Linked DNA regions of Homo sapiens: regions 1, 3 and 4 are each linked to region 2. The links come from fine-mapping of genetic effects on gene expression. A gene starts in region 2. Each other region holds a variant in brackets. All regions are shown on one strand. Distances are between the middles of the regions. Region 1 has its middle 6.2 kb from the start of ACSBG1. Region 2 holds the start of DNAJA4 (DnaJ heat shock protein family (Hsp40) member A4). Region 3 has its middle 2.8 kb from the start of SKIC8. Region 4 has its middle 110 kb from the start of TBC1D2B.

What was found. PIP is the estimated chance that this variant, and not a neighbour inherited with it, causes the effect.
Region 1: its variant is fine-mapped to the expression of DNAJA4 in whole blood (TOPMed, PIP 0.98).
Region 3: its variant is fine-mapped to the expression of DNAJA4 in whole blood (INTERVAL, PIP above 0.99).
Region 4: its variant is fine-mapped to the expression of DNAJA4 in fibroblasts (GTEx, PIP above 0.99).

Annotation. Positions count from the first base shown.
Region 1 is chr15:78,238,205-78,243,350 of GRCh38, forward strand. No RefSeq gene overlaps it. Among named protein-coding and RNA genes, the nearest start is that of ACSBG1, 6.2 kb to the left of the region's middle. The variant AG/A (reference allele first, on the strand shown) is at 2,586.
Region 2 is chr15:78,261,509-78,266,654 of GRCh38, forward strand. It overlaps DNAJA4 (DnaJ heat shock protein family (Hsp40) member A4), which reads left to right and starts at 3,054. Exons shown (of 7, transcript NM_001130182.2): 1 at 3,054-3,387. The coding sequence starts at 3,256. DNAJA4-DT (DNAJA4 divergent transcript) reads right to left here and starts at 2,636. Exons shown (of 4, transcript XR_001751621.1): 1 at 2,549-2,636; 2 at 2,364-2,449. RefSeq lists silencers at 2,908-2,987, 3,298-3,587.
Region 3 is chr15:78,299,849-78,304,994 of GRCh38, forward strand. No RefSeq gene overlaps it. Among named protein-coding and RNA genes, the nearest start is that of SKIC8, 2.8 kb to the left of the region's middle. RefSeq lists enhancers at 1-893, 69-158. The variant C/T (reference allele first, on the strand shown) is at 2,233.
Region 4 is chr15:77,967,978-77,973,123 of GRCh38, forward strand. No RefSeq gene overlaps it. Among named protein-coding and RNA genes, the nearest start is that of TBC1D2B, 110 kb to the right of the region's middle. The variant A/G (reference allele first, on the strand shown) is at 3,025.

The DNA.
Region 1 (5,146 bases), 23 kb before region 2:
CCTCCCACCTCAGCCTCCTGAGTGGCTGGGGCTACAGGCATGTATCACCATGCCTGGCTAATTTTTAAATTTTTTTTGGAGAGACAAGGTCTTGCTATGTTTCCCAGGCTAGTCTTGAACTCCTAGCCTCAAAGGATCCTCCTGTCTCAGCCTCCCAAGGTACTGGGATTATAGGTGTGAGCCACCATGCCCAGCCATGAATCCTACACTTTAAAATGGTGAATTTAATGTTATGTGAATTTCACCTCAATACAATGTTTTAAAAAGTACAAAGGGCTTCATAGTAAAAATTAAATTTTCCTCCCACTTTTCTGTCCCTCTCCCCACCATCCTTCACTCATTTCTTTTCTCCAGAGCCACCACTGTTAAAAATTTCTTTTTTGCATCATTCTAGAAATATCTTGGATATATACAAATGCTAACATATGGCATACACAGTTTCGTGTCTTCTTATACTTGACAACATTTGCTGGAGAACTTTTCATATTTTTGCCTGGAGAACTTCCTGGTTCTCTTTTTGTGGGGTAGGTACAGCATTCCATGGAAGGGCTGGCCCGAGATGCATTTCAACAGCTCTGTAGGATGAACATTTAGGTTGTTTTCAGTCTTTTGCTGTTACAGATGAAGCTGTGATGAATAATCTTATCCTTGCGTGGTTCGTACTTGAGCTAGTCTATCTCTAGGATAAATTCCTAGAAATGGGACGCTAGGACTTGACTAAGTTTAAACTTGAAAATGACCGAGTTTTTGCGAAACTCTTATTGGGTCGGGGGGTCCTTGCTCCCAGAGCTCCCAAGATGGTGGCGGGCCGCTTCCAAGATGGTGGCAAGCCTTGTGTTCTCTGACCTGGGGTTCTTGGCCTCATGGATTCCAAGGAATGGAATCTTGGGCCATGTGGTGAGTGTTATCGCTCTATTAGAAGCCGTGGATCACGGAAGAGAACCGTGGAACCCAGTGACTAGCGTTCAGCTGGATTAGGACAAACCTGGGCACCTAGCTGTGCAGGAACAATGGCAAGCCTTTAGCCGGATCGGGAGCGGCAATGGGTGCCTCATTGGATCAGGAGCACAGTGGACACCCTGCCGGATCCAGACGGATGGCAGTCAGCAGCGGGTCTGCGACAGCGGCAAACAGCAGTGGTGGACGGCGAGCAAAAGCTCAGCTCGAGCGGTAACAAACATGGACCAGAAGAGAATTGCAAGATTTTTTTTTTTTTTTTTTGAGATGGAGTCTTGCTCTGTCGCCCAGGCTGGAGTGCAGTGGTGTGACCTAGGCTCACTGCAAGCTCCACCTCCTCAGGTTCACACCATTCTCCAACTCAGCCTCCCGAGTAGCTGGGACTACAGGAGCCCGCCACCATGCCCAGCTAATTTTTTTGTATTTTTATTAGTGACTGGGTTTCACCATGTCAGCCAGGATGGTCTCGATCTCCTGACCTCGTGATCTGCCCGCCTCAGGCTCCCAAAGTGCTGGGATTACAGGCGTAAGCCACCGTGCCCCACCAGTTGCAAGATTTAGTAGAGTGAAAACAGAGCTCCCATACAAAGGGAGGAGACCCAAAGTGGGTAGCCAGTTGCCAGCTGGAATGCCTGGGTTTATATCCCGATTGTCGTTCCTCCTGCTGTGCTCTCAGGCAATAGATGATTGGCTATTTCTTTACCTCCTGTTTTTGCCTAATTAGCATTTTAATGAGCTCTCTTTATTACCTGATTGGTCAGGTATGAGCTAAGTTGCAAGCCCCGTGTTTAAAGGTGGATGTGGCCATCTTCCCAGCTAGGCTTAGGGATTCTCAGTCGGCCTAGGAAATCCAGCTGGTCCTGTCTCTCAAAACCAACAGATTAAATGTCCTGCCATTAGGAGGAAGGGTGGAGAGCTGTAAAAAAAATTTTTTTTCCATTGAGTTACAGAAAATAAAACTGCAGTTTTGCCCACCTGAGTTTGTCGATTGAGGAAGTTTGTGCCTGCTATGCGTGTAAGGCCAAATGCCTCTGCACCAGCCTCTACTGTCATCGAAGTGATTGCTGCCCTCACTGGTTTTCAACTTCAAGAATTGGCTGGGTGTGGTGGCTCATGCCTAGCACTTTGGGAAGCTGAGGCAGGTTGACTGCCTGAGCTCAGGAGTTCGAGACCAGCCTGGGCAACACAGTGAAACCCCATCTCTACTAAAATACAAAAAATTAGCTGGCGTGGTGCTGTGCACCTGTAATCCCAGCTACTCAGGAGGCTGAGGCAGGAGAATTGCTAGAAGCCGGGAGGCGGAAGTTGCAGTGAGCCAAGATCACGCCACTGCACTCCAGCCTGGGCAACAGAGTGAGACTCCATCTCTTAAAAAAAAAAAAAAAAAAAATCAAGACCACTATTTTCCAATCAATTTCTTTACCACCTTCATTAGTTTTGCCATATTTGGTTTCCCCAGGGGTATAGTACATTATTTACTATTTTTCAACTCCATTTTATAATTTAAAAATGAAATAGCTTTATTCTAAGCAATTGAAGAACTTGTTATATAAATATATACAGATATTTCCCAATGCATGTTGAAATTAACATGAAACTACCTTTTCTTCTTTCTTTTTGAGAGATTG[AG/A]GGGGGGGTCTCATCATGTTGCTCGGGCTGGTCTTGAACTCCTGGGGTCAAGCAATCAGCCTGCCTCCCACAACAAAGAGATATTAAGTGTTTTGTTTTTGTTTTTAAAAGCCTTTAAAAAGGCTTGGGTGGGAGGGTCATTGCTGTATGTTTTCAGCATTAGCTTTTCTGGGCCACTTTTTTGTTATCATGCGTATGTATTACCAGGAGACGATTTTTTTTTTCTTTTTAAATTTCAAAATACTGCACCTGGGGCTCTGGATTGAGGCCTCGCAGTCGTCTCTGGGTGCAGGACGAGCAGGAGAACAATGGGCCTCTGCTGACCCCTGCTGGCCAGAGCGCCTCCCACCCACCCAGGTCTCCACAGGACTGGGATCTTGCGCCACTGCCTCCATCCCCAGAAACAGCCGTCCTTCCTCCCCTGCCCCCAGAAGGCCTCCGGCAGCCACCACAGTGTGCTCTGGACATCGAGTCTGGGGCCCGGCTGGGAGACCCTTGTGCTCCAGAGGGCGCTGAGGCTCTGGGCTGCATTTGTGTCCCCTCTGGCCCTGTCTACATCGAGTGGGTGGGGTGTGAGTCCTGGGATCAGAGTATCCTCCAGCTCTAGATAAAACCCGACTTTGGAAGGCCAAGGTGGGTGGATGACCTGAGGTCAGGAGTTCGAGACCGGTCTGACCAACATGGTAAAGCCCTGTCTCTACTAAAAATACAAAAATAAGCCAGGCGTGGTGGTGGGTGCCTGTAGTCCAAGCTACTCGGGAGGCTGAGGCAGGAGAATTGCTTGAACCCAGGCGGTGGAGGTTGCAGTGAGCCAAGGTTGCACCACTGCACTCCAGCCTGGGTGACAGAGACTCTGTCTCAAAAATAAATAAAATAAAATAGATAAAACCCAGAGATTTTTGGAGATTCAAACTCCTCTCCCAGGGACTCACATTCTCTGAGCTATGGGTCACCAGGGCAGAGCTTTCCTGAGAGGAGGGGCAGAAGAACGTAGCACATAGAGGATTCTAACCTGCCAGGACTGAGCTGGGAGTGGGCAATGGAGACCACGGAGGATGGAGGCCTTTGGAGGATTAGGGAAGGAGGAGGAAGGGAGGGAACCCAGATGTCTGGGCAACCTCTGCAGAGGAGGCACCTTCTTTTCTCACCTGGAAAGACCTGGATCAAGGGCCACGTGACCCGTATTCTCCAGATCTGCACCATATAGGGCAGGGGTGGAACACACTGGTTTTTGGATTTGCACCATGACCCAAGCCAAGTCACCTCTCTGAGTCTCAGTTTCCTCCTCTGTAAAATGGAGAGTCCTGATTACCAGGGGCAGAACCCCTAACTGAAACCAGCAGAGACAAAAAGGACCACGAGATGATGGGTGCAATGCAGGACAGGGTGAATAACTAAACACAAAGGGGCGAGGGGTGCTCTGCCACTGGGAAGGATCCCCCTTCTCCACCTCCCTTATGAGGGAGTGAATCTCATGGCTCACTCTGCACTGGCTCCCTCCTGTGGAGAGACCGGGGATAGGAAGACAGCCGTAAGTTCCCCGGCTTTCTCCCCTCAACAGAATGGTCCAAAGTGCAGCACACACAACCTGTCTGGGTCACCTACATGACATAGCAAAGAGCTATGTTTCCTTGTGCAATGAAGAACAGCTCAGAAATGCAACTACCTTCTATTTATTTGCTTTCCTTCCTTTTCTGCCTCATGTCTTTTTTTTTTCCCTGATTCTTGTGCCCTAGAATTCCACTTCCAATAAAGCCTTAGGACATAAACTTTGCCTTGGGCTCTGTTTTCTAGAGCATCTGGGATGAGATAGATGCTTATAAGCTGTTTGACCTTGGATACATGACTTAACCTCTCTGTGCTTCAGTTTTCTTATTTGTAAAATGGAGTCATGATTCCTAGTTCATGAGGTTGCAGTGAGTTAAGTCTACTGAAGGCACTTAGAGTGGTATGTAAACATCCAGTTAGAATTCATTGCCAGGTGCAGGGGCCTACACTTGTAATCCTGGCACTTTGAGAGGCTGAGGGGGGATTGCTTGAGTCCAGGAGCTTGAGACCAGCCTAGAGACCTTGTCTCTACAAAAAAAAAAAAAAAAAAATTAGTTGGGCATGGTGGCACATGCCAATAATCCCAGCTACTCAGGAGGCTGAAGCGGGGAGGACTGCTTGAGCCTGGGAGTTTTAGGCTGCAGTGGGCCAAGATTGTGGCACTGCACTCAGCCTGAATGACAGAGCAAGACCCCGTCTCAAAAAAAAAAAAAAAAGAAAACAGAAAAAAAAAGTTTTCGCTGTTTTTAGTATCCTCGGGCCTGAGAATGCTCTGGACATTGGGACAGAGGCAGCTCATTGGCAAAAAAAATGGAGATTTGAATGACTCTCCAGGGATCTCATCACGACAGAGCCACGCAGCTGAGGATGTCTGTTGCTACCCAGGCTGCACCTTCCACGCTGGCTGCCCCTGACCTTAGGCAGTGGCCTGAGGCTGGGGAAGGAACACTGGATTGAGAGTCAACAGGACTTGGTTCCAGCTTGCATGACCCTGGGGGAAGCCTCCACATCG
Region 2 (5,146 bases):
ACTCCTAGGCTGCGGACCAGTACTGGTCTGTGGCCTGTCAGGAACCAAGCAGTGGCATTAGATTCTCACAGGAGCTTGAAATCTGCTGTGAACTGTGCATGCGGGGGATCTAGGTTGCATGCTCCTTATAAGAATCTAACGCCTGATGATCTAAGGTGGAACAGTTTCATCCTCCATTTTTTTTTCTTTTTTGAGATAGAGTCTTTCTCTGTTGCCCAGGCTGGCATGCAGTAGCACAGTCTCAGCTCACTGCAACCTCTGCCTCCCGGGTTTAAGTGATTCTCCTATTTCAGCCTCCTGAGTAGCTGGGATTACAGGCACGTGCCACCACACCTGGCTAATTTTTGTATTTTTAGTAGAGACGGGGTTTCACCATGTTGGCCAGGCTGGTCTCAAACTCTTGAGCTCAAGTGATCTGCCCACTTCGACCTCCCAAAGTGCTGGGATTACAGGCCTGAGCCACCACACCTGGCCAAAAATATCTGATTTTACTAGACAATCCTATTGTTATTTATTTTTTATTTTTTGAGACAGAGTCTTGCTCTGTCACCCAGGCTGGAGTGCAGTGGTGTGATCTCAGCTCACTGCAGCCTCTGCCTCCCGGGTTCAAGCGATTCTTGTGCCTCAGCCTCCTGAGTAGCTGGGATTACAGGCGAGCACCACCATCCCTGGCTAATTTTTGTATTTTTAGTAGAGATGGAGTTTCACCAAGTTGGCCAGACTGGTCTTGAACTCGTGGCCTCAAGTGATCTGCCCACCTCGGCGTCCCAAAGTGCTGGGATTACAGGTGTGAGCCACCACGCCAGGCCTTCATCATAGAATTATTGCCCACCCCCACCACCCTGTCCGTGACAAAATCGTCTTCCATGAAACTGGTCTCTGGTGCCAAAAAGCCTGGGAACTGGTGATCTTAAGGATGTGACGTTGAATTATTAGAAACTGTGTTGCTGTCTGTTCAGTCTTTATAGGCCAAGACTGAAGCCTAGTTGAGAAGAGGGCTCATAGGAGCCTGGCTAAGTTCCATCAAGAAGAGAATCACTATCAGCTTCTATACCTTAGCCCCTGCCCGCACCCCCCCACCCCCAAAAAGCATCAATATTGTGACTATATACCAGGTGTTTCACAAAGTTATGAAGTAGTTATAATTAATATCCTCATTAAAAGGTTAAGAAAACTGAGGCTCAGAAAGGTTAAGTTGTCTGCCCAAGGTTCCACAGCCAGAAGTAGCAGTGCTGGGATTTGAACCTAGGTCTAAGTCTCACTGGTTCCAGAATTCACTGTCGTCCAAAGTGCATAGCTCCATTCTATGTTTCTAGGCTCTGTCTTTAAGCCATCCCTCTCCTGCACATGCCCATTTTACGAATGCCTATGGTCCCGAGTACTAAATCTGGACAAGTATGTGACCCTGGGCAGTGGATCTCGGCTCTGGCTGTACCACCTGGGGAGCTTGAAAAACACTGATGCCTGGGCCTCACCCCTAGAAGCTCTAAGGTAACAGGTGTGGAGTGCAACCCAGAGGGATTTTTAGAAGATTCCAGGTGATCTCTGTCAGGAGCCAGGTTTGAGACCCACTGCGCTAGGAGTCTTCACAGTTATCATCCCATTTGATGCTTATAAGAGCCCTGTGAGAAAGGCAGGCAAGTGGCAATCCCCATGTCCTGCTGACGAAGAAAAGTGTTGAGATGCTAAGGCTCAGACAGTAAGATCTGGATAGAAAACAAAGTTTCTGACCTCTAGCTCTGAGTTCTCTGCCTAAAGGTTCTGCTCTACAAGGCATAATTTAAAAAAAAAAAAAGCAACATCTCCAAGAAGAGCAGCTTAATTTCTCTTGTACAGTACAAGTCACTTCTCACCCCCATGGAACACATGGAGGAGAGGTAGTACCTGCTTCAGCCACAGTACCCAAAACAAGGCCAGGGCATCCCAGGGAGGTGAGCAGTGACCCCCCTTTCTGACAAACTGTTCCCCTGGCAGAAGCCAAGGGAGGGCTAGGGGACAGGGGCCTGCAATTCTGTGATAGCGTTGGGGCCTGCTTTCCACGCCCACTTTTCTGCAACGGTTTGTGATCTGGACTCCCTGAGCACCCGTTGGGAGCTGGGGGCAGCCTAGGGAAGTCGGGACCTACTCCTGTACCCTTCCAAGGCAAGCATCCTGGGCCACCTAGCCGTTTCAGGGTCCAGGCCATGGGACCCCCTGTGCATAACACTGGGCCCAACAGCCTGGTCGGGCCCTGATGTTTGCTCACTGATGATGTGCAGAGGAGAGGGGGCAGTTTCCCACTTCTGGGAGAAGAGAGGGCACTGTCGGCCCTTGGCAGACTTGGGGGGCGTCACTGCCCATATGTGGGGGACGTCACTGCTCACCTTGAGGGACTTAAGGGTTCCCAGTGGTGGGCATTCGAGAGGATACTGTCCACATCTGGGGCCAGCAAAGGACCCCTGTACCTCAACTGGAAGGCCAGAGGTTCACCTCAGCCTTGCAGTCATGAGGCAGCAGAGGGCCCCTACCCACTCCAACCCCCTAAAAAATGCAACAATCCCAGGCACACCTTAGGCCGCAGCCTGGCTGTGACCGAACAGACGGCGGCCACACCCCCGGGGAGAGGCCGGGTGGGGACCGCAGGGCGCAGCTCTCCCAGTCCCACCCTTCGGCGCAGGGCTCCGGCCAACACAGCCCTCCAGGCCGCCTACTCTCCAGCCAGCCGGCTCCACGGACCCACGGAAGGGCAAGGGGGCGGCCTCGGGGCGGCGGGACAGTTGTCGGAGGGCGCCCTCCAGGCCCAAGCCGCCTTCTCCGGCCCCCGCCATGGCCCGGGGCGGCAGTCAGAGCTGGAGCTCCGGGGAATCAGACGGGCAGCCAAAGGAGCAGACGCCCGAGAAGCCCAGGTGAGCGGCTGGGCCGCGCCGGACGGGCGTCGGGGGTCTGGGCCGCGAACCCGCCGCGGGGCCGCCGGAACCTCCGCGAAGGTTCTAGGCCTTTGTGGCGTCACCGTCTCCTTGCGGAAGCTTCCGCCGGCGCCGAATAAAACCCGCCGCGGAGGAGCCGGTGGCTCTAGTGCGGTGGAGCCAGGCGTGGAAGTCGGTCCGGCGCGGGGCGGGGGGCGGGCGGGAGCTACAAGCGGCGGCGGCGGCGGCGACCGTGACCGTGACGCGCGAGCGGGCGGCGGGGGCGCGGGCCAGGGGCGCGGGCCAGGGTGCCGGCAGGGGCGTCCGGGGCGCTCTGACCGGCCTCGCCCGCCCCCCCCGCAGACACAAGATGGTGAAGGAGACCCAGTACTATGACATCCTGGGCGTGAAGCCCAGCGCGTCCCCGGAGGAGATCAAGAAGGCCTATCGGAAGCTGGCGCTCAAGTACCACCCGGACAAGAACCCGGATGAGGGCGAGAAGGTGCGGGGCGGCGCGGGGCACGGGCCGGGCTCCCGAGGGGCCAAGGGTTATTAAGCCAGGAGCATTGAAGGCGACGGGAAACCTGAGCCGCGTTTGTTGGGGAGGCTGTCGCCAGGCGCCTCGGGGCCAGGCCGGGCAGAGGTGGCGGGAGACCCTGGGCGCCGTGCGGCGCGGTCGGTGGAGGGCGCTTCGCCCGCGGAGGAGGCATGTGGTGCGGCACTTGGGTCCCTCGCGAGTCCCTGCCGAGCCCATTCATTCCTCCATTCGCTCCACAAGTGTTTGGGTAGCCCCTGCCGTGCGCGCCGGACTAGTTCTCATAGGGTGTGTTGGTTCCCTGTGGGAGAGGCGGCCTGGGAATCGGGAAACTGAGGCACACACAAACAGTTGTTTACTTGCTGGGAACGACTGGCTCATATTCTCTGTTGATGCATAAACCCTAGGGATGAGTGTCTTTAATCTGAGCTGGTACCTTGGACAAACGCCGTGCCTCTCTTGAGAATGACTAGCTGGATTTGTTCTGTGCACCTACTGCCTACCTGATAAAAGCGTCAGATAGTGAATAATCCCATTTTCTTTATTAAACAGGGACACGGACATCTGCAACCTGACATCAGCTTGTACTCATATTCTGGGTTTTCGGTGACAAGTGACACACAGTTGATCATAAGTACCAATCATAGACTGAAAATGCTCTGCATTTTAGAGACAGAAGTTAAAAGCTTTTCCATCCTGTTTACAGAAAGTTTGCTTTTTATCTCTAAAGAGGCTCATGACCCACCTGAATAGGTGAATTGAAGGATGAGGCATTGCAAGGAAAGGCTGCTAACCCTCCCGTTCCTCCTTTCACTTCTTGCCATTTTCTTACAAAACTTTGGTTGTTCCGCATGGGTCTTGAGAGGTGGGGCCGTTATAGTAGCTGATAGCAGTGTCACTTGGGCCACGTTTGAAACCACACCAATCACCCATGTAGCATTTAAGACCTGTGGAAACGACGCTGGAATCAAAATACCTGTCTGTGTTAGTTGTTCCAAGCTGGAGAAAGCTACTTCAGGACGGTTGGCTGAATGGCAACAGTGATGGAATATTTATATTTAGCCACATGTGCTGAATGTGGCTGTCACAAGTTTAAAATGCTTTCCTGTAAGACCATTTGTCTGTTACTCACTTGCGTTCTTTCTCATCTATATTTAGATGGCTTACTGTAGCTTTTAAAGGCACTGGCGTTTTACATGGTGCTGGTGATTCATCCACCTGCTCCCTACATTCATTGTGGTCCGCTTCTGACAGTCTCCTTTAAGGAGAGCTTGTAGGCTTCTAATTTCACATTTCAGCAAGCTGGCTAAAGACATGTGGGAAAGCCTGACCCTGGATTCAGGTCAAATCTCAGCACTCACAAGAGTAAGTTCATGCCTCTGTGTATACAGTTAGAGCTGAATATGCTTTTGTTCTGAAGCTTTTATTTTTAAAAAATTAGACTTGACCTGTACTACATATGTGTAGGTTTCACCCTGTCTATACCTGTCTGGGCAGGTTGTTTGGTTTGTTTTAAACTAATATTTATTCATAGCCAGGCACTGAGTTAGTGTCACATAAATGAGGCCCTTGGCAGTGAGGTCTGGCAGGCCCATCAGCTTGGAGGGAAGGGTTCTGTGATGTGCCCATTGCCAGGAATACTTTCCTTCCTCTACCTTCATGGAAGGGGATAAAACTCTTTAGTTCTCAGCTAAAACATCTTCCAGGAGGCTGCCTCTGCCTCATA
Region 3 (5,146 bases), 38 kb after region 2:
GTTGCAATTTCATTTTGTACTTTTGAGATTGGACTAAAGCTAATAACTTCTGTTGCTGAAATAAATTCAGTGAAATCGAGCTTTGTCTTTCAAACTGCTAGTCATGACCCATTAACGTGACAGATATCAGTTTAATAGGTTGTCAACTGACTTTTTTTTTTTTTTTTTTTGAGGGCCAGGCAGAGTAGCTCACGTCTGTAATCCCAGGACTTTGGGAGCCGAGGTGAGAGGCTTGCTTGAGCTCTGGGTTTCCAGACCAGCCTGGGCAACATAGCGAGAGACCTCGTGTCTACTAAAAATAAAAACAATTAGCACATGCCTGTAGTTCCAGTTACTTGGGAGGCTGAGGCAGGAGGATCGCTTAAGCCCTGGAGGTTGAGGCTACATTGAGCCGTGATGACGCCACTGCACTCCAGCCTGGGGAACAGAACTAGACCCCGTCTCAAAAAAAAAAAAAGAGATGGGGCTGGGTGTGGTGGCTCATGCCTGTAATCCCAGCATTTTGGGAGTCGGAGTGGGTGGATCACTTGAGGTTAGGAGTTTTGAAATCAACCTGGCCAATATGGTGAAACCCCGTCTCAAGTAAAAAAAAAAAAAACAGAAACAAAAACAAAATTAGCCGGGTGTGGTGGCATGTGCCCGTAATCCCAGCTACTTGGGAGGCTGAGGCAGGAGAATCGCTTGAACCCTGGAGGCAGAAGTTGCAGTGAGCACAGATCACACCACTGCACTCCAGCCTGGGCAACAGAGTGAGACTGTCTCGAATAACAACAACAAAAAAAGATGGGAAGAGGCTCATGCCCCATTATGGAGGCCGCCCTGTGGCTCAGATGTGGTGGCTCACTCCTGTAATCCCAGCACTTTGGGAGGCCAAGGGGGGAGGATTGCTTCTGGCCGTGATTTCAAGACCAGTATGGGCAACATGGCGAGACCCAATCTCTACAAAAAATTTTAAAGTTACAGACGCAGTGGTGTGCACGTGTAGACCCAGCTGCTCAGGAGGCAGAAGTGAGGATCACTTGAGCCCAGGAGTTTGAGGCTGCAGTGAGCTATGATTGGGCCACTGCACTGTAGCCTGGGTGACAGAGTGAGACCCTGGCTCTAAAAAATATTTTTCGAAAAAACTAGTTTTGAAGTTCAAATATATATATAGAGAGAGAGACGGAGGACTATTAGACCACTTACAACTAGGTGAAGTTCATCTTTGGGGGCTTTTTTTTCTTTTGAGACTGAGTCTTGCTGTGTCACCCAGGCTGGAGTGCAGTGGCGCAATCTCGGCTCACTACAACTTCTGCCTCCTGGGTTCAAGTGATTCTCCTGCCTCAGCCTCCCCAGTAGCTGGGACTACAGGCACCCACCACCACACCCGGCTAATTTTTTTTTGTATTTTTTTTTTTAGTAGAGACGGGGTTTCACCATGTTGGCCAGGCTGGTCTCAAACTCCTGACCTCAGGTGCTCCACCCACCTCTGCCTCCCAAGTTGCTGGGATTACAGGCATGAGCCACTGCACCTGGCCATCTTTGGGGGCTTTTTGAGGAGGCTATGTGTGGTGAGAAATTGGCAAATACACCCACATCTCCCAGGACCTATTCTCTTGTCCTCAGTAATCTCACATTAACACAAAAGAGAAGACATCCTGCAGCTCTTCTGCTGCACACATGACTTCCCTGCATGCCAGCATCCTTAACCCTCAAGTTCACATGTTTCAGAGTGATATGACTAATTTTTCTCAGTCACATTGACTGGAGAGCTATTTCTCTCCTTCCCAGCTCTGTGACATCTCTGTCCATAGAAATTTCATCCAGCCCCAGTGGACCCTCTGCATGTCACTGGCTTAAAAAGTTTGGGTCAAAGTGAGCAGACTTCAAGACTGAATTGTCAAAATTCTTATGTGGCATCTCTTATAAGTCAAGATATCCTTGTAACCATTCTGGATCTATTGGACCAGGGTCAGGCATGTGCCCCTGAAGCTAAGGAAGAATGTACAAATTATATCATGAAGCCAGTGAGCTGATTTTCAAACTTAGATTGACTTAAGTGCTGACTGGTGTTCGGGCACATTCCACAGAGCTAAATACACAGAAACTGACCCTGCAATGGCTGGGATGTGGGTTCCTGAAGTGTGGAAAGGAATTAACATTAGTACTACAAAGCAATGGCTTTTAGCAGTTAAATGAGTGACCTGCTGCCTTCCTGTATAACCAGTTGCCTTAGTTTTGGCCAATCTGCTG[C/T]TTTGTTTTTGTTGGTGACATTTACGGGTTTTTGTGGGTTTTGGAAATAGATTATTATGTAACCTCTCCCACACCGAGATAATTGGGCCATCTTCACTCTAACTTTTAGCTTTTGAATATGAAGAAGTATTTTTGAAAGACTCCTACTTTAAGAAGGGTGAAATTTTGGCTGTCAAAAGTGCTCACAACTGTATGACTAAGTGAATTTTAATTTGTGTGATCTGGGGTTATGTAAGGTTTTTTTTCTTTTCTACACATTAACTTTAAATACCCCACCTTCAAATTATTCTAAAAGCACACTGATCACATTTATGCCTTTTAACTTAAAATTTAATTAAAATTTAAAATTAAAAAAGCATAAATGTGATCAGTGTGCTTTTAGAATAATTAAGCCAAATACTAAGGCTTTCCATTTCTGTTTACTTGCTCCCAAATCTGCTACTAATAATTTTCAATTGAAGCCAGTTGTTTTGGATAAAAATTCAATTAATCATCTCAAAAAAGAGAAATGGAATACATTAAGAAAGAAGTAGAATAGAAGATATAAGAGTGCATCATACATAGTAAAGTTACATCATGTTTTATAAAAACTGTTTCACCCATGCGGTTACTGGGTCACAAGTGAAAATCCATTTCTTGCTATGAGTCATGGCCAAACACTTTGAAAATCATTGTAATAAAGACTTTCTAAAGACTTTCCAGCTTTATAATTCTATAATTATGACAAGAACTCCAAACCATTCATTCAAAAAGGATGTATTAAGTACCTACTTTCACCACATTCCCCCAGAGGGCCAGACATATGGGATCATTGGCATGACCTTAGCATTGGGACTATAAAGCTAGAATAATTGGCCTTTTTTACACTGTGGACGTCTCAGGCATCTGATGAAACCAATGAATCCTGTCCCAGAACAATGGGGTTTTTTGGAAGAAAAAATTTTAATTGCTGTTGCAAAAAAACATCAGTATGGAGTAGAAATTGGTTTCTATGGCATTATTAGAGAATATGTTCTAGAAAGTGGAGGTAACTGGATGTAAGATTCTGGCAGCAGTTTAATAGATAACAGTCCCAGATGTTTAGGTTGAGGCCAACGCCTAATTAGGGTGAACGGTTTGTGCGTGTGTAATTTTGGACAATATCTGGAGAAAGGTTACACTGTGCACAAACCAAATTTAATTTTTTTCACAAGTGTTGTAAAGTTTCTTATAATAAAAGGTTTTTGCTACATGCACTTCATTTTCACATTAAGAGTGTTTAGAATACCTAGACACAAAAGAGAGCATTCATGCAAGATATGCTACTCCTTGATATAATAATGCATACAGTTCAAAATGTTTACCCTTTTTTTTTTTTTTTTTTTGAGACAGAGTCTCGCTCTGTCGCCCAGGCTGGAGTGCAGTGACGCGATCCCGGCACACTGCAAGCTCCGCCTCCTGGGTTCACGCCATTCTCCTGCCTCAGCCTCCTGAGTAGCTGGGACTGCAGGCCCCCGCGACCACGCCCGGCTAATTTTCTTTTGTGTTTTTTTTAGTAGAGACGGGGTTTCACTGTGTTAGCCAGGATGGTCTCGATCTCCTGACCTCGTGATCCACCTGCCTTGGCCTCCCGAAGTGCTGGGATTACAGGCGTGAGCCACCGCGCCCGGCCACTGTTTACACTATTGTTGCAGTAGCTGCTGCCATCACCGGGCTGCGGCAGGGAGGCACAGCTGGGGCTGCATGCTGGTGGATGCCTCCCCCTTCTGAGTTGGGGAGAGCTCCCCAGGTGCTGCTGCAGCCGCCCAAACAGCAGTTGCAGATCCAGGCCTCCTGCTTTACGGAGCAGGCAGGGTCGCCACCCTCCTGGGCGGGGCTACAACTGCCCAAACAGCGGCTGTGGATCCGAGCCTCCCGGTGCTCTTGGAGGGGGCTGGGAGCAGGCAAGATCTGCCCTCCTAGGTGCAGGACCCAGAGGGTCTCTGCAGCCTGCACCCTCGTGGACCCCAGAAAGGACCCCACCGCACCCCGTCGCTAGGGGGTGTCTGTTCCTGCTGCCTGGCCTCTCTCTGCTGCCGCCCCTGCTCTGATCATGGAGCAGGGCTTGGGGCCAAGCCCCAGGGGCCATGAATGACAGTAGGAGGCAGATCGATTCCTGGGCAGAAGGGGGTAGGTCTCCAGTAAGGCCCCACCTTCAGGTCAGGGAGGGACTGAAGACTGGGGACCAGGCTGCCAGTCCCACAGACCTGAGTGGGAGCTTGTGGTGCCTCCTCCAGGCTCACCCATGGCCGCCCATGGGCCAGTCAGCACACACTTCCTCCCTTCTGAGGTCCATAAAAGCCCTGGGCTCAGCCAAACTGCAGGAGAGGATGGAGAGACAGCGGGAAGAGTAGCTGTAGAAAGGAGCTACCCTCTCTGCCAGAGCTGCAGAGACCTGCAGAGCCTTTCAAAGGACCTGCGGAGAGGAGGCCCCCCTCCTCCTGTAGAGACTTCCAAATGACCTGAGGAGAGGATCCCCCAGAACAGCCTCCTTCTCCAGGAGCACCCCCCGCCAGGATCCCCTAGAGCAGTCCCCCTCTCCAGGGTTGGGTCTTCTCTCTGCTGAGAGCAGCCCCCCTCTACAGGGTGAGGTCTTCTTTTTGCTGAGAGCAGCTCCCCTCTCCAGGGTTGGGTCTTCTTTCTGCTGAGAGCAGCAGGTGGCAGGATAACCAGTGGGCAGAGGGGGAGCTACCCTCTCCAGGCCTCCTGTCTGCTGAGAGCTGAACACTCCATGGGATGACTTGCTCAGAGGAGCTACCCACTGCGGGTCTTCTCTGAGCTGCTTAACACTCAGTAAGTTCTTCGAGTACCTCATTATTCCTGGACACAGGACAAGAACTCAGGCAAAGGCGCTCCCAGGAAGAAAATCAATACCTCCCACACCCGTCCAAAGATC
Region 4 (5,146 bases), 290 kb before region 2:
CATCACTTCCTGTATGTGCATTTGTCCCCTCACCTTTCATCCCAATTTTGTGTTAACATATTTGGATTAAGTCCACATTCCACGTTTTCATTATTATGGCTGTAAATCTTGATGGCTGAACTAAGTGTTGTAATAAGATGGCATTTCTGTTTTTTGTTTGTTTTTTGAGAGTCTCATTCTGTTGCCCCAGCTGGAGTACAGTGGTGCAGTCTCAGCTCACTGCAGCCTCCGCCTCCTGGGTTCAAGTGATTCTCATGCCTCAGCCTCCCAAGTAGCTGGGATTACAGGCACCTGCCGCCCCCACTCAGCTAATTTTGTATTTTTAGTAGAGACGGGGTTTCCATGTTGGCCAGGCTGGTCTCGAACTCCTGACCTCGAGTGATTTGCCACCTTGGCCTCCAAAAGTGCTGGGATTATAGGCATGAGCTACCGTGCCCCATCTAGATGGCATTTCTTTTTAAGAACAGTTTTTTTTGTGCTTTGTTTTCCTTGCTTCTCCAGGCCTTCCAGATCCTTTAATAGTTTTATAAGATGTCTCTTAATCCAGTTTTCCCAAAGGTAATCCCTACCAGATAATCCAGCAGTTCCCTTCTTTCCTGGACCCTCCTCCCAACTTCCCTCGGTCCTCTAGTTTAGACTAGATGCTTTCTAGGCCTGCCCCAAAATATTTATGGAGGGTCTTCCTGTTTCTTGGATCCCATGCTACTTTTTTTATGGGGAGGTACCTTTTTTTTTTTTTAATTTGTTTTGGTGGAGCACATCCTCAAGTAGCTTTCTGAGAAAGAGTGCATGGAGGTAAATGGTTTGCCCATCTCAAAGTGTCTTTATTCTTTGCTCACATCTGATTGATATTTTGATTTGATATCAACCTCTGAGTTGAAAGTGACTCTTCTTCAGAATGTTGAAGGCATTTTTCTGTTGTCTTCTAGCTTCCAACATTGCTCTGAAGAGGTCCCATACCATTCTGATTTGAATGTGACCTTTTACAAAATCTGGAAGCTTTTAGGACTCTCTCTCTTTCTCTCTTTTTGGTGATTTTAAATTTTACAATATATGCCTTGGCCTATTTTAATTTGAGGGAGCACTCATTGGACTGTTTTAATCTAGAAACTTGTGCCCTTCGGTTCTTGAACTGTTGTTGTATTATTTATTTGATAACTTTCTTACATTTTCTCTTTTTGGAACCCTTAATATTCACCTATTTTCTCACTTTCTTATTTTTAAATGTTTTATATTTTTCATCTTTGTTTTCCTTTCTCCTTCCTTCCTTCCTTCTTTCTTCTTTCTTTCCTTTCCTTTCCTTTCCTTTTCTTTTCTTTGTTTCCTTTCTTTCTTTCTTTTGAGACAGGGTCTTGCTTTGTTGCCCAGGCTGGAGTGCAGTGCCACAATCATGGCTCACTGCAGCTCGAGCTGCCAGGCACAAGAGATCCTCCTGCCTCAGCATCCCAAGTAGCTGGGGCTACAGGTGTGTGCCACCACACCCAGCTAATTTTTTCAATTTTTTGTAGAGATGGGGTTTTGCCATGTTGCTCAGGCTGGGCTTGAACTCCTGGACTCCTCCCTCATCCTCCCAAAGTTCTGGGATTACGGGCGTGAGCCAGCATGCCCAGCCATCTCTTTCTGTCTTCTAGGAGGTATCTGATTCATCTTTACTTTACAATCCTATTAAATTTTTGAATTTTTTCATCGTACTTTTAATTTCTTAAACTTTCTCATTCACTAAATACACATTGAGTTCACATCTGAAATACTTGGGACCAGAAGTGTTTTAGATTTTGGATTTTTTTTTTTATTTTGGAGTATTTGCATTATACTTAGCAGTTCAGAATCCCCAGTCTGAAAGTCCAAAATCTGAAGTGCTCCAAAGAGCATTTCCTCTGAGCATCATGTTAGTGCTCAAAAGTTTTGGATTTTGGAGCATTTGGATTTTGGGATTGGAGATGCTCAATCTGTGCACCTTTTGATCCTATTCTTGTTTCATGGGTACAGTATGTTCTCTTATCTCTGTGAGGTTATTACTTACATGGATTTGACTTTTTTCTTCTGTTCCCTGAAATGTTTTTCTTTCCTTTGGGTTATTTTAAAAATACATATTTGTTTCATGTTAACAGTTTTCTTGTCCAGGTGCAGTGGCTCATGCCTGTAATCCCAGCACTTAGGGAGGCCGAGGCAGGCTAGCCCGGCCAACATGGTGAAACCCTATCTCTACTAAACAAAAATACAAAAAAAATTAGCCAAGCACGGTTGCTGGTGCCTGTAATCGCAGCTACTCAGGAGGCTGAGGCAGGAGAATCGCTTGAACCCGGGAGGCAGAGGCTGCAGTGAACCGAGATTGCGCCACTGTACTCCAGCCTGGGCAAAAGAGAGAAACTGTCTCAAAAAAAAGTTTTCTTAAAATGCATTGGCTGTATTTCATATATAGCAAGGAGATGCAGAGACACTAATTGGGCAGTTTGTGGACTTGGGCAGGACTTTTCCAAGTCTCTGCTGAAAGACTGGTTCAGATGGGGCTATTTTGGGAAGATCCTCTAATGTCAGTCACTGAGGTCATTTTTCTGAGTGAACCAGTTTCCCCAGAGAACAATCCTCTCGACTTTTCCTGGGAGAGTGTATGTCTGGCTGCAGCATCCAAGTGGGGAAGGGGCTTGGCATGTTTCTTACCCTTCAATGTATAGACTTTTGCTTGTCCCCTTTTCTCTGTAGGTCCTTCTGCCTTGGGCCTTCATGTATGTCTACCATTCCTGGGCCAGAGCCTCCTGGTTCACCCTCCCCAGGGAGTGATCCCCGGCCCTCTGCTGGGTGGCAGGTGGCCATCACTTGGCTACTCAGGGTTGGGGAGGGGATCTAGGGTCTGATCGGTTCTTACAGACTTTCAGCCCTACTGTCTTCAGCCCTCCTGGCACTAAGGCCCTGAGGGGTCCCTGGAAACTCCATTCCTGAGCCTTTCCGGGCTTCTCCTTCTGGGTGGTTCCTCCCTGCAGGCAATTGGCTCTCAGCTTTTATCACTCTACCAAGTCAGCTACT[A/G]CCTGGCCATCTGCTTCCCAGCTTCCAGAATCTTGTTGACATCCTTCATTACCCATCATCACCCCTTATGGATTTATGCCTTGTTTATTTCCTCCACTGTCATCATAGTGGAGTTTTGGAAGGGAGCAGCAATAAATCTGTCTGCTCAACGTGCCATGTTTTTCTAGAAGTCCACTCACTATGGGGCTTAAGCAGGGATGTGACTAGGTCCATTAGCGATGTAAGAGCAAGGATGCTGGCCTCCAGTGGAAGAGGGAGTACTGGGGTGGGGGGATTGGAAGCAGAGAAGAGTTTTGTTTGGTGGTTAGACTGGCCATGCATGGTGGCTCATGCCTGTAATCCCAGCACCTTGGGAGACTGAGGCAGGCGGATCCCTTGAGGTCAGGAGTTCGAGACCAGCCTGGCCAACATGGTGAAACCCCGTCTCTACTAAAAATACAAAAATCACCTGGGTGTGGTGGTGCATGCCTATAATCCCAGCTACTCGGGAGGCTGAGGCAGGAGAATTGCTTGAACCTGGGAGGCAGAGGTTGCAGTGAGCCAAGATCATGCCACTGCAGTTCAGCTTGGACGACAGAGCAAGACTGTCTTGGGGAAAAAAAAGAACCTAGACTGTGGCCCAGGCTTCTACCTGTGTTGGCAGACAAGTTATATTAGCTCTTAAGCCTCAAAAAATGGACATGATGATGGGCCTGCCTTGTGCATGTGATATGAGGAATAAGTGAGAAAACGCATGCAGTGCTTAGCACAGTGCCTGCCACACAGTAAGCATTTCACGCACACTCATTACTATTCCTTCCACTGTTACCAAGTGATAGATAGGATGGACTTGAACCAGGGAAGTGGCCTGAAGGTGGGGAGGAGGGTGTGTCTCCTTCCCCAGAGAGAGGCAGAGAATGAGAGAATGGCTTCAGAAAATCAGAATAGTAGCTGCCCCCACAGCACCCCCAGGGCTTGTTCCCAGCTGCCCCGACCCAGGGTGCCGCCCAACAGCCTGGTTCTAGGACAGACAGACAGACAAGTCTGTCCTCATTCAGCTGCTGGAATGCTTGAGGGACTTGGCTCGGGGCCTGGGGTGAGGGTGAGAGGACAGGGTGAGAGTCAGAGCCAGCCGGGGCCTCCCAGAGCCTTGGCACCAGGGAGAGCCAGACAGAAGCAGAGCAATACGTGCCTCCCCAGGGGAGCGGGCCCCTCCCCAATGGAGGGGCGTTTGGGAGGAAGAATAACCCCTTCTTCCCAAGGTCCTTTTGCACTTTCACCTTTGCATCCTGGGAGTCAGGTAGCAGGGCCCTCCCAAGGCCCAGGAGGTGGAAGGAAGAGGGTGTGCGGAGGTGGGGAGGGTGGCAGCAGCCTGTCTTCCAGCCTGCAGCCTTTGGTCTCCTTGATGGGGGTGGGACAGGAGAGACAGGATGGGCCCCACCCAAGCAGGTTGGGGGACAGAATGAGTGAGATTCACCGAAAGTGCCAAACAGTCAGGCAGTGTTTCTAGGACTTGGGGGCGTCGCAGAGGCACTCACAGACCACCCTCTCATCCTAGCTGGTCCTGAAGCCCTTTGGCTTCCTGCATATAGATGCTTATCCAGCCAGGTAGACCCACAGGGCTGAATCCAAACTCGTTCTTGCTGTGTCCACAGACTCCATGTCCATCAGGCCCTGTGTGTGGGGACCGTGGTAAAGGAGACAGACCTCCAGGTGCCTGTCCTCCAGGCCCTCACACCATGGGGAGATGGACAGATGACAGTTGGGGATGATTGGCACTGAGGCATGCAGTCCTCGTGGGTCTGTAGGAATGGGGAGAGGGGCACCAAGCCCTCCTGGGTTCAGGAACAGTGACTCGGAGAAGGAGCCTGCCTTCTAAAGGCCAGCTTCCACGCCGAGGAAGAAGGGTGCTGCTGTAAGTGGAGGGCAGGCTGGGCAGAGGCCAGGGCCATGCGAGTATAGGGTGGGGCAGAAGAACCCTCAGGAGGTGGTGGGGGGGCACTGGAGGGTAGCTTCTGGAGCTTGTCCAAGAGGGTTGACCTGAAGAACTCTAAGAACCTTTCCGGACTGACAGGTGCTTTAAGGGACCCTGGGGAGAGGTCACAGCATTTCACCAGTGTCAACTTGGACCTGGGTGGGGAGG